2 separate regions of the Homo sapiens genome follow, and region 1 is linked to region 2. Evidence: fine-mapped expression QTL. A gene starts in region 2. The other region holds a variant in brackets. All regions are shown on one strand. Distances are between the middles of the regions. Region 1 overlaps TERF2 (telomeric repeat binding factor 2). Region 2 holds the start of UTP4 (UTP4 small subunit processome component).

Region 1 (5,000 bases), 240 kb before region 2:
ATTGAAAGAAAAATTTGGATTCATACTACCCAATTTTAAGAATTATGAGAAAGTTACAGTAATTACGACTATAGAGATTAGTAGAACAGAAGAGAGCATCTAAAAACAGACCCACACAAATATGACTGATTGATTTTTGACAAAGATGTGAAGGCTATTCAATGGGAAAAGGATGGTCTTTTCAACAAATGGTATTGAAACAATTGAATGTCCATATGCAGAAATGAACTTTGACCATAAGCTCACATCTTGTACAAAAATTAACTCAAAATTATAATCTAAATGTAAAATGTGAAACCATAAAACTTAGAGGAAACATGAAGGAATCTTTATGTCCTGGAGTTAGGCAAAAAAATCTTAGATAATAATTTAAAAACATCCATAAGAAGAAAAATTGATGAATAGGACTTAATCAAAATTTTAAACTTTTGCTCTGAGAAAAACACTGTTAAGAGAATGGAAAAGCAATCGACAGGTTGGGAGAAAATATTTACAAATCACACCTGACAAAGAACTGGTATCTAGAGTATATGAAGAGCTCTCAAAAGAAACAAGTCTATACAACCCTAGTTTTAAATGGGCAAAAAGCTCACCCAAAATAATGTAGATGGTAAAAAAAAATTACATGAAAAGATGTTCAACATCATTTACTCATTAAGGAAATACAAATTAAAACCACAGTAGATTCAAATACCAATTAGAATGGACCAAACTTTAAAAAATACTGATAGTGGGGCATGGTGTCACATGCCTATAATCCTGCTACTTGGGCACCTGAAGTAGGAGGATTGCTTGAGGCCAAGAGTTTGAGTTCAGCCTGGGTGATATAGACCCTATCTCAAGAAAAATTAATTAAAAAAAAACCCTAACTATAAAAAGTGTTAGTTACATATTTCAAAACATCATGTTGTACATAAGTATGTGCAATTTTCATCTGTTTTTTAAATAGAGATGGGATCTCACTGTTGCCCATGCTGGACTTGAACTCCTGGGATCAAGTGATCCTCCTACCTTGGCCTTCTGAAGTGCTGAGATTACAGGCGTGAGCCACCACACCTAGCCTATTTTTTAAAAAGCACTAGTGAGGATGTGGAGCAACTGGAACTCTCATATATTGCTGATGGGAATGCGGGATGATACAGCTACTCCAGAAAGTAGTTTGGCCATTTCTTATAAACACATTTTCCATGAGACCATGCAATCCTATTCTTGGGTATTTACCTTAGAGAAATGAGAAGTTTTACCTTAGAGTAAATGAGACTGTTTTAGCATCTCTATTTATAATAACCATAAATTGCAGACATCTCAAATGTCCTTCAGTGGATGAATGTATAAACTATAGTACATGCATGGAATGGAATACTGCCCAACAACAAGAAAAAGTGAACTATTGATAGTGTACCAACATGGATGGACCTTAAAGGCCTTATACAGAGTGAAAGGAGCCAAGCTCAAGGCTACATCCTTTAAAAAAAAAGTCCTACACACTTACGGCTTTTTTGTTCTTGTTTTTTGAGACGGAGTCTCACTCTGTTGCCCAGGCTGGAGTGCAGTGGCGCAATCTCGGCTCACTGCAACCTCTGCCTGTCAGGTTCAAGCAATTCTCCTGCCTTAGCCTCCCAAGCACCTGAGACTACAGGTGCGCACTACCATGCCCGTCTAATTTTTGTATTTTAAGTAGAGACAGGGTTTCACATGCTGACCAGGCTGGTCTTGAACTCCTGACCTCATGATCTGCCCACCTCAGCCTCCCAAAGTGCTGGGATTACAGGCGCGAGCCACTGCGCCTGGCCCTTTTTTTTTTTTTTTTTTTTTTTTTTTTTTTTTTTTTTTTTTTTTTTTTTTTTTTTTAAAGAGAGAGAGGGTCTCGCTTTACTGCCCAGGCTGGAGTGCAGTGGCATGATCATAGCTCACTGCTGCCCTCAAATTCCTGGGCTCGGGTGATCCTCCTACCTCTGCCTCCCGAGTAGCTAGGACCACAGGCACACGCCACCATGCCTGGCTACTTTTTTGTAGAGATGGGTTTTCACTGTGTTGCCCAGGCTGGTTTCAAATTCCTGGCCTCAAGTGATCCTCCTGTCTCAGTTTCCCAAAGCACTGGGATTACAGTTATGAGCCACCGGGATCAGTGGTTGCCAGGGTTAGGTGTGACTACACAGGACAGCCAAGGCAGGGTTTTGGATCCTCATTGTAGTGGATGATACAGGAGTCTACGTGTGTTAAAATTCCAAACCAGATGTCCTAAACAAGTTAATTTTGTTGTATGCAAGTTAAATAGAATTTTAAAACAGTAAGACCTGTATGATTAAAAAAGTAAAAACTTTGTATTCAAGAAAGTAAGTATAGTTTGAGCATATGTTTTTCTGCTGAAAGTGATGTATAAATGGATATGGTCATCTGAGTAAAATGAAGACTTACTTTGTACCTTCCCTGTGCAGCAAGAACTGTGCCTGCATATTCAAGGGC[G/A]TTTGACATCAGTTGCCTTCCGCCCTGTATGGCTGTGCTTAACACGTTGAGGATAGAAGCAACAGATTAGTACTTAATGAATTTCCTTGCTATTCTTCCCCTTAGTCTGTGTCTCTGTACATTCTTCCCTGTGAAGATCAAAAATATCTGTGAACCAATTTTCCTTTTATTGTTTGTTTTGAGACGGGGTATCGCTCTTTCGCCCAAGCTGGAGTGCAGTGGTACAGTCACTGCTCACTGCAGCCCCGATCTCCCAGACCCAAGTGATCCTCCTACCTCAACCTCCCGAGTAGCTGGGACCACAGGCACACACCAACATGCCTGGGTAGGTGGGTTTTTTTGGGGGAGAGACAGGGTCTCCCTATGTTCCCCAGGCTGGTCTCAAACTCCTGAGCTCAAGCGATCCTCCCACCTTGGCCTCTCAAAGTGTGGGAATACAGTTGTACAGTTGTAAGCTGCCACACCCAGTCGGCTTGCCTTTTTTTGTATGGTGGTCTTTTTAAAGAATCTGTGTCTCTCAGACAGGATTTGAGATAGCTACTTTATTCTATCATATAACTTCAAATACTCCCAATTTTTTGTTGGCTTTTCTAATTTTTAAAAATGTTCATATATATTATAACTTCCTTGTAAATGTTCAGTCACTGTTATTTTTCCTCAAGAGAACCTCATTCTCTTGAGGTTTCTTTATGGAAGGACTCTACTTTCTCTCTGTGGCTGGTGAGACCTTATCTTACCTGGAACTTTGCCCTTTTTATTTGCTGCTTGTGAATGACCTGGGTTTGTTGGCTTCAGTAGTTCCCTAGGTGCTTTAATTGAAGTTGCCAGCTGGGGTTTATGGTAGTAAGGGGTTGTCCCTTCATTCTCCTACAGAACTGGCCTTAGGCCTTTCCAGAATGGAACTAGCAGAACTCTGTGGTCAGCACATCTCTTTCTTTCCGCCTACAGTATATCCTCCCTCCCTCATCCCCCTCTTGCTTTAAAGCTTTTGCATCCAAAAAGAACAGAATCAATTGTTCTGGGGACCTGAAATTACAGGACGTAGAATGACTCCTGTCCATTCTGTCTTTCCTCAGGAGGCCCTATTGAAATTGGTTAAATGGTCTGTAATCCAGGTGATCAGATTTTGCTCTATCAGCCATGTAACAAAAGCCATTGTATTGTTGAAAAGTGACTACCTTACAAGCAGAAAGAGACAGCTTCCAGTGGTTCATAACACTTGAACAATAATTGTTTGTTTGTTTTTTTTGAGATGGAGTTTTGGCTCTTGTTGCCCAGGCTGGAGTGCAGTGGCGCGATCTCGGCTTACTGCAACCTCTGCGTCCCAGGTTCAAGCAATTCTCCTGCCTCAGCCTCCCGAGTAGCTGGGATTACAGGCATGCACCACCATGCCTGGCTAATTTTGTATTTTTAGTAGAGATGGGGTTTCTCCATGTTGGTCAGGCTGGTCTCGAACTCCCGACGTCAGGTGATCCACCCGCCTTGGCCTCCCAAAGTGCTGGGATTACAGGCGTGAGCCACCGCGCCTGGCTTTATAATTGTTAGTTTTTAAGTACAGAAATTTGATATGATGTGAGAGAGAGTTATTTTGATGTTTGATATTCTGATTACACCTGTCATTACAAAAGTAAAAAAAGATTTTTCCCCTCCTTTTTAGGCTGTCATTATTTGTATCAAAAACAAAGAATTTGAAAAGGCTTCAAAAATTTTGAAAAAACATATGTCCAAGGACCCCACAACTCAGGTAAATTTGATACATTTTTGCTCCTGTGACTTAAATTCATCTCATTGCTTTTTGTGGGGAAATAGGGAAAGGGTTCTTGGTCAGGAATATTACTTAAATATTCTCCTTTCAACATGTAACACCTGCAGCAAGTTATCTTTTATATCCAAGATAACTCACTGTAAGATTGGCTTTTCAAAATTTAGTTTTTATTAGAGAAATTGACATAAATTATTCACTTGCCTTATTTCTGTCTAGTTTATAACAGAACATTGATTTAAATGATCAGCACCAGGTATGGAGCTGACAAATGTAACACTTCTAACTTTATTTACATTAAATGGTGATCCTGCAGATGTGAGGAAACTTCTTTGGTGAGGACATAGCACCTGTTTCCTGGTGTCAAAAGTTCTGTTGGTCCCCTGCTTTTATTTTTTCTTCTTCCTTTTTATTCATTTGTTTATTTATTTTTTTTGAGGCAGAGTCTCGCTTTGTTGCTCAAGCTGGGGTGCAGTGGTGCAGTCATAGTTCACTGCAGCCTCAACTTCCTGAGCTCAAGCAGTTCTTCCACCTCATCCTCCCCAGTAGCTGGGTTCACAGCTGCATGCCACCACACATGGCTAATTTTTAAATTTTTTGTAGAGACAGGGTCTCTTTATGTTGCCCAGGCTGGTCTGGAACTCCTGGGCTCAAGTGATCCTACCACCTCGGCCTCCCAAAGTGCTGGGATTACGTGAATCATCATGCCCAACCATTTCTTCTATATACTTTTTTTTTTTTTTTTTTTTTGAGATGGAGTCTTGCTCTGTTG
Region 2 (5,476 bases):
TGGGTTTACAGGTGTGAGCCACTCTGCCCTGCCTCTTTTCACTTTAACGTACTAATTTTTTCTTGCTCTGAGAGTCACTGACAGAGCTAAGCAATCGTATCTAGTAGGAAAGGGAATATAGGGAAAGCAGGAAACCAGCCTGAGTTAATTAATTGTTGAAGAATAAAGAAAACAGATGAAGGAGAAAAGAAAATAAGGAACACTAGGTAAGGAATGGTTGACTTATCCATTCAAGAAACATTAAGCAGTGGCTTTGTAGGAGGCGCTTGATAAATGGTGGGAATGCAGATGTGAGTATCACTGACATGGTTCCTATCCTCATAAAATTGGAAGTTCAGCATGGAAGAAAGACATTAAACAAACACACAAATTATATAGTTATAACTGTTACAAATGACAAACAGAAAAATCATAATATGGCCATGACTGTTAAAAAAAAAAAAAAAGAAGAAGAACAAGACCAAGAAAAAGATAATCAGTCTGGTATGAGGGCTCACACCTGTAATCCCAGCACTTTGGGAGGCTGAGGTGGGCAGATCACTTGAGGTCAGGAGTTCGAGACCAGGCTGGCCAACATGGTGAAACCTCGTCTCTATGAAAATAAAAAAATTAGCGAGGCATGGTGGCACACCTGTAATCCCAGCGACTTGGAAGGCTGAGGCAGGAGAGGGAGGCAGAGGTTGCAGTGAGCCAAGATCACGCCACTGCACTCCAGCCTGGGTGACAGAGCAAGACTCCGTCTCCAAAAAAAAAAAAAAAAAGAAAAAGAAAAAAAAAGAAAATCACAGGATGCAATAAGCACACGCCAGCGCATGTTCTTCATACCACAGAATGTAACCCATTTGTGGTGGTCCTGTAGTTTTTACCTTTTGATTAGTTCTTCAGGGGTGAGCTCAGTAAATCATCCCTTTCCACATTTCCTAAACCCACCTCTCAGGGAAGGCAATTCTCTGAATTGCCTTCCCTGAAGGCAATTCAATGAAGGTTCTATGCCTGTGTTTCGGTTTATCATATTTATTTTACAGGTTGGAAACTGTACACTTATCTTTCTCCCACTGGTCTTTGAGCTCCGTAAAGTTAGGGCCTCTGACATTTGTCTTAGTGCCCAGTATTTGCCACTCATTCACCGAGAAACATTTACAGAATGCCTAAATTCCAGGTACCAGGCTGCTGGGCACTGAATTCACTCATTTGCCCATCTACTCATTTATATCACAGCACCCAGTACATAACAGTCATTCAACATGAACTAAGATGTTGCACCCGAAGAAAATCACTAGTCAGTGCCCTTGGAGGGGAGAAGAAAAAGGACTAATAGACCTCTGCATACACCCAAAGGACATTTTACCTAATTTTAAATCTCCTTTACTCCCAAATGTAGACATGTAGGTCTACATTCTCTCAGACAGATGAACTTTGGAATCCATCTTCCCACATCACCAAAAAGTTTCTGATATTAAAACGTGTTATCATTTTTTCTGAATTGACAATGAAACAGTACTGATACTCCCTGCAGGAAATTTTGCTTACCAAAGCTGCAATGGTGTTGAGACTGATATACCAACAATTTCCCTTCCTGTGTCCAAAAGATCCAGCAAACCTCAGTTTCCAATGACAGGCAGTGAGATGTCACATTTCTAGGTAGGACCCTTCTAATCAACATTACACAGATTGAAACTGAGCTTCTCTTATCAGTTAGGAGATCTCAGAAGTTTGGTAGTTCTAAGCAACTTCAGAGGGGCTAGGAAGTCACTCAATCAGTTTGATTATAAAAGACATACAAGCTTCTTGAACTTCAGAAGAAATTAACATCAAAACACCATATCAGACTCCCAAATGACTTACTTTCTCCTGAAAGTAGTTTGCTGACAAGTTATAAATTTCCACAGTGCCATCTGTTCGTGAAACAGCCAATCTGTTTGACTGGTTATTGTAAGCCACACAGCGGATTCCTGATGGAACATAATTAAAGAAACGTACTCGATGGACCTTAAATTCACCCATTCCTAGGGGGCGAAAAGAGAGTCATTATTGCTATATGTTAACTGCAGTATGTCACATATAGTATTCAGTTCCTTAATATCACTGTTCTGGCTGGAAGGCTCCAACAACATCTCCCTGAAGTTCATTTCCAAATGGCTGCTAACAATGCCCCCCACAAGAATTACTCAATCTTCAAAAGCTCAGAATGGCTTGAATAATAAGGAGGCTTCAGCAAAAAATCAAAAAGGGTCCTACTCCATAGCTCCAGAGTTCCTATCTCGGGGCGCCTAGGAATCCGCATTTTAGCAAGCATCTCTCCTCAACTCTATTGCTAAGTTTGCAAACAACAGACCTAAACTGAGGTAGTGACAGTGAGGCTGATGGGGCAGGCAGAACCGAGCTCCTCTTGAGGAAGAAACGACAGGGTTTGACTTAATCTGGCTGCCTGGTCTGACGTCTGTCACTTACCCTACCCCGTCCCCCCGACGCCCGCCAACATATATACTGGCCGAGAGTAGAGACCAGGTCTTGTTCGCCCCTCACTGGCCTAGCTTCAAGGTTAGGAACCCGCAGACAGAGCAAGCGCGTTCGGTCGGGCCGGGGCGTCTGAGGCGCGCGCGGTCTTCGCCTCCCCTTCCCTCTCCCCGAGTCTACAGAGTAGCCCCCACCCCGCCTCGGGACAAGGAGACCCTCGGGACAAGGAGCTCAGCCGGACGCCGACCCTGGGCCGGCCACCTTGTAAGACCCCCCCAGCTCTCGCAGCCGCTTCCCACGCCCCTTCCCCAACTCACCAGCGGCCCCACGCTCCCCTTCCCGGTGCTCGCCTCTCTCCGCCCCGGCCCCACGTGCGCGCGCGCTCTCAGGCTCTGCCCCGGAAGTGCTCCTGGCGCATAGTCGGAAGTGCGCAGGCAGTGCTCGCGGCGGCGGCGACGGCGGCGGGAGGTTCGGTTGTCGCCCGTTGGCCGCGCGGCGCCGCGCTCGGCGGCCGCCATTGCAGGTCAGGCCGCGGGCGGGGGGCACGGGAGGCTGCGGGGAGCGAGGGCCGAGCCGGGATTGGGGGCGAGGGCGCGAGGGAGCGGGAAGCTAGGGAGCCGGGGCCGGGCGGGGCGCGCGGCTCGGAGAGAAGAATGGCGAGCCGAGGGGCGGGGAGCGCGGGCGGGGGAGGGGTGGCCGGGAAGGGGGAGGGCGGCGGGAGGGCGGCGCGGAGGTGGGGGCAAGCCCGGAGGGGCCTCCGGGGTGGGAGGGCCAGGAGTGTGGGGGAAGGGAGCGGTGTGGAGACGGAAGGCGGAGGGAAGGAAGGGAGCGAGCGGGGCGGAGCGGGAGAAGGGCGGAAAGGGTGGCCGAGCGCGGGCGGAGGACGGAGAAGGGGGCGGCGAGGGCCGGAATCTCGAGGTACGTGCGGGAAGGGGCTCTTCCCGGGGTTGGGAGGGAGCCCAGCCCGCTATGCTTGCGGGAGCGGAGTAGAACTGGAACCTAGGAAGTAGCGGGAAGAGCAGAAAGGGGAGTTCGGGGTGGGGGTTAGGACCGTGAGGTTTTGTTCCAGGTAACATTTGTAATCGTGGAGGGGGGAGGCTTCTGGGAGAGGTAATTGGAAGGGTGGTTGGAGAGTCATTCCAGGTTCTTTTGTGGGAGGGAAGCCGAGAGACGAGTGGGGTGGGGTCCTGGAGGAGTGGAGTACTTGAGAACCGGGAACAATTTGGAGAACGAGGGTGGTAGAGAAAGGACGTTTAAAGAGTAATCTTTGGGAAGAGGGTGAACGGTTTGGAAGACCACTCCAGTGGGTGGTGTGGAGGAAGGCGGTTTAAAGAATAGTTTCCCTGGGAGGCAGGAAAAGGGGTTAAAACAGCTTGTAATTTGGAGGGGGGTGGAGAAGAGGGGGGAAGCGGATTGAGAAGTCCCAGAAAGTGGGTGGGACTAGAAATAGGAAGTGTTTGTAGCTCTAGCAGAAAGGGTGGGAGGGGGCCGAGAGGGAGTGGGTGGAGAAGATGGGGGTGGGTGGGAGGAAGAGCACAGAGGGAGACTCTACGCCGGGCTAGAAAGGAAAGGGTTTGGGGGAGTACAGGGGGCCGTACCATTAAGAGGAGGACAGGCTAAGATGGGGCTGCAGAGTAGCAGAAGATGGAGAAAACTGCAGTAACTCAGATCGACTGAAGCCATCTTTTCCACCCATTGCTACAAATACCAGTAATTGATTCCCTCCAACGTGGGAATCCTAAAATGTGATGGGAAGTATCACGTGTATGCATAGCATCCACACACGTTTTTGAACACACTTCACTAATGTAAAGTTTGGAAGCATTCAATTCCACCAACCCTCCATAAGCCCCTTTTTGGAGGGGAGCAAGATTCTCATTTGGAAACAGGATTTTAGACTTAGTAACATAAGCCTTTCAAGAGACAAGATCCCCTTCAAAAGTATAGACCTGTCCCCTTCAGTTACAAAACCACGATAACACTACAAATAAAAATAATCTGTATTCGGTTGTATGTAAAACGTTCTGAGTTGTTCACTTGGTAGAAAGGCACATAGAGACATAGTCATCATATTTAGAGAAATTACCTTCCAGAACTTAATCCCTGAAGCAGTTTGGTGAACCACAACTGCCATGTTTGAATTCTACTGTTATGAAAACTTGATTTTATTCTGATGACCTGCTGCTTTCGTAGAATGCTTTAGTCCGTTATAAACATTAATATGCTAACACAGTGTAGTATTAAGACATTCTATTTGATGAATACTAAGAAAATGCCACCTTTCTCTGGGAAATCGATAGCTTGACCCTGAAGGCTTACCATGTGTCAGACAATGTGCTAAAAGCTTTACATTCATTACTCGTTCTTGCAACAGCCTTTCAAAATAGGTGTTTATGCCCAGTGTATTGTTAGGAAAACACGTGAGGTTAAACTACCCACTGTCACATATGGGATAGGTGGCAAAATCACAGAATCCAGGTCTGTATGACAAGTGAGTGCTTCACTATATTCGTAAACAAAGTATCCACCCTGGGATCAAAAAACAAAAGCTCAATAAATGCCAACTGTTGGCCTAGCAAAAAATAGAAAATTGTGAATATTTACACTCTGAAATAATTGATTTCACCCCAGTTTAGAAAAGAATGTTTAAGGGTTGAGAATTTAAAGGCTTGGTTTCCTGTTTGAAAAAAAAACAAAATTTCTAAAACGTTGTTTAGCTTTATTAAAATTTAGTTATTTGTATTGAGGTTAAACCGTTGAGTCAAAGCCTCTTTTTTGCTATAAGCCATATGTTCGGTTTAATTGGATACATATCACACTTTCTTCTGCCACATTTTATTTTGAAGGATTATGAGGATCATTGCTCAGGCTGTTCTGTTCTCTGTAAGACAGTAATCTTTTAACAATTTAATATTTAACAATTCAGAGACCAGAGGGTAAGAATTAAATTCTGTGGAAGATTAAAATGAATACTTGACAAAGAATGTCCTCTATTCTCTTGACTTTCACATTCAGGAGC

What was found. PIP is the estimated chance that this variant, and not a neighbour inherited with it, causes the effect. A credible set is the group of variants that fine-mapping cannot tell apart.
Region 1: its variant is the best candidate, but not a certain one, in a credible set for the expression of UTP4 in fibroblasts (GTEx, PIP 0.51).

The regions. Positions count from the first base shown.
Region 1 is chr16:69,371,479-69,376,478 of GRCh38, reverse strand. It overlaps TERF2 (telomeric repeat binding factor 2), which reads left to right. Exons shown (of 10, transcript NM_005652.5): 4 at 4,124-4,210. Among named protein-coding and RNA genes, the nearest start is that of TERF2, 12 kb to the left of the region's middle. RefSeq lists an enhancer at 4,454-4,953. The variant G/A (reference allele first, on the strand shown) is at 2,467.
Region 2 is chr16:69,129,988-69,135,463 of GRCh38, reverse strand. It overlaps UTP4 (UTP4 small subunit processome component), which reads right to left and starts at 2,815. Exons shown (of 17, transcript NM_032830.3): 1 at 2,775-2,815; 2 at 1,846-2,006. The coding sequence starts at 2,004. It overlaps DERPC (DERPC proline and glycine rich nuclear protein), which reads left to right and starts at 2,876. Exons shown (of 3, transcript NM_001002847.4): 1 at 2,876-2,980. CHTF8 (chromosome transmission fidelity factor 8) reads left to right here and starts at 2,876. Exons shown (of 4, transcript NM_001039690.5): 1 at 2,876-2,980. RefSeq lists silencers at 2,767-3,126, 3,147-3,296.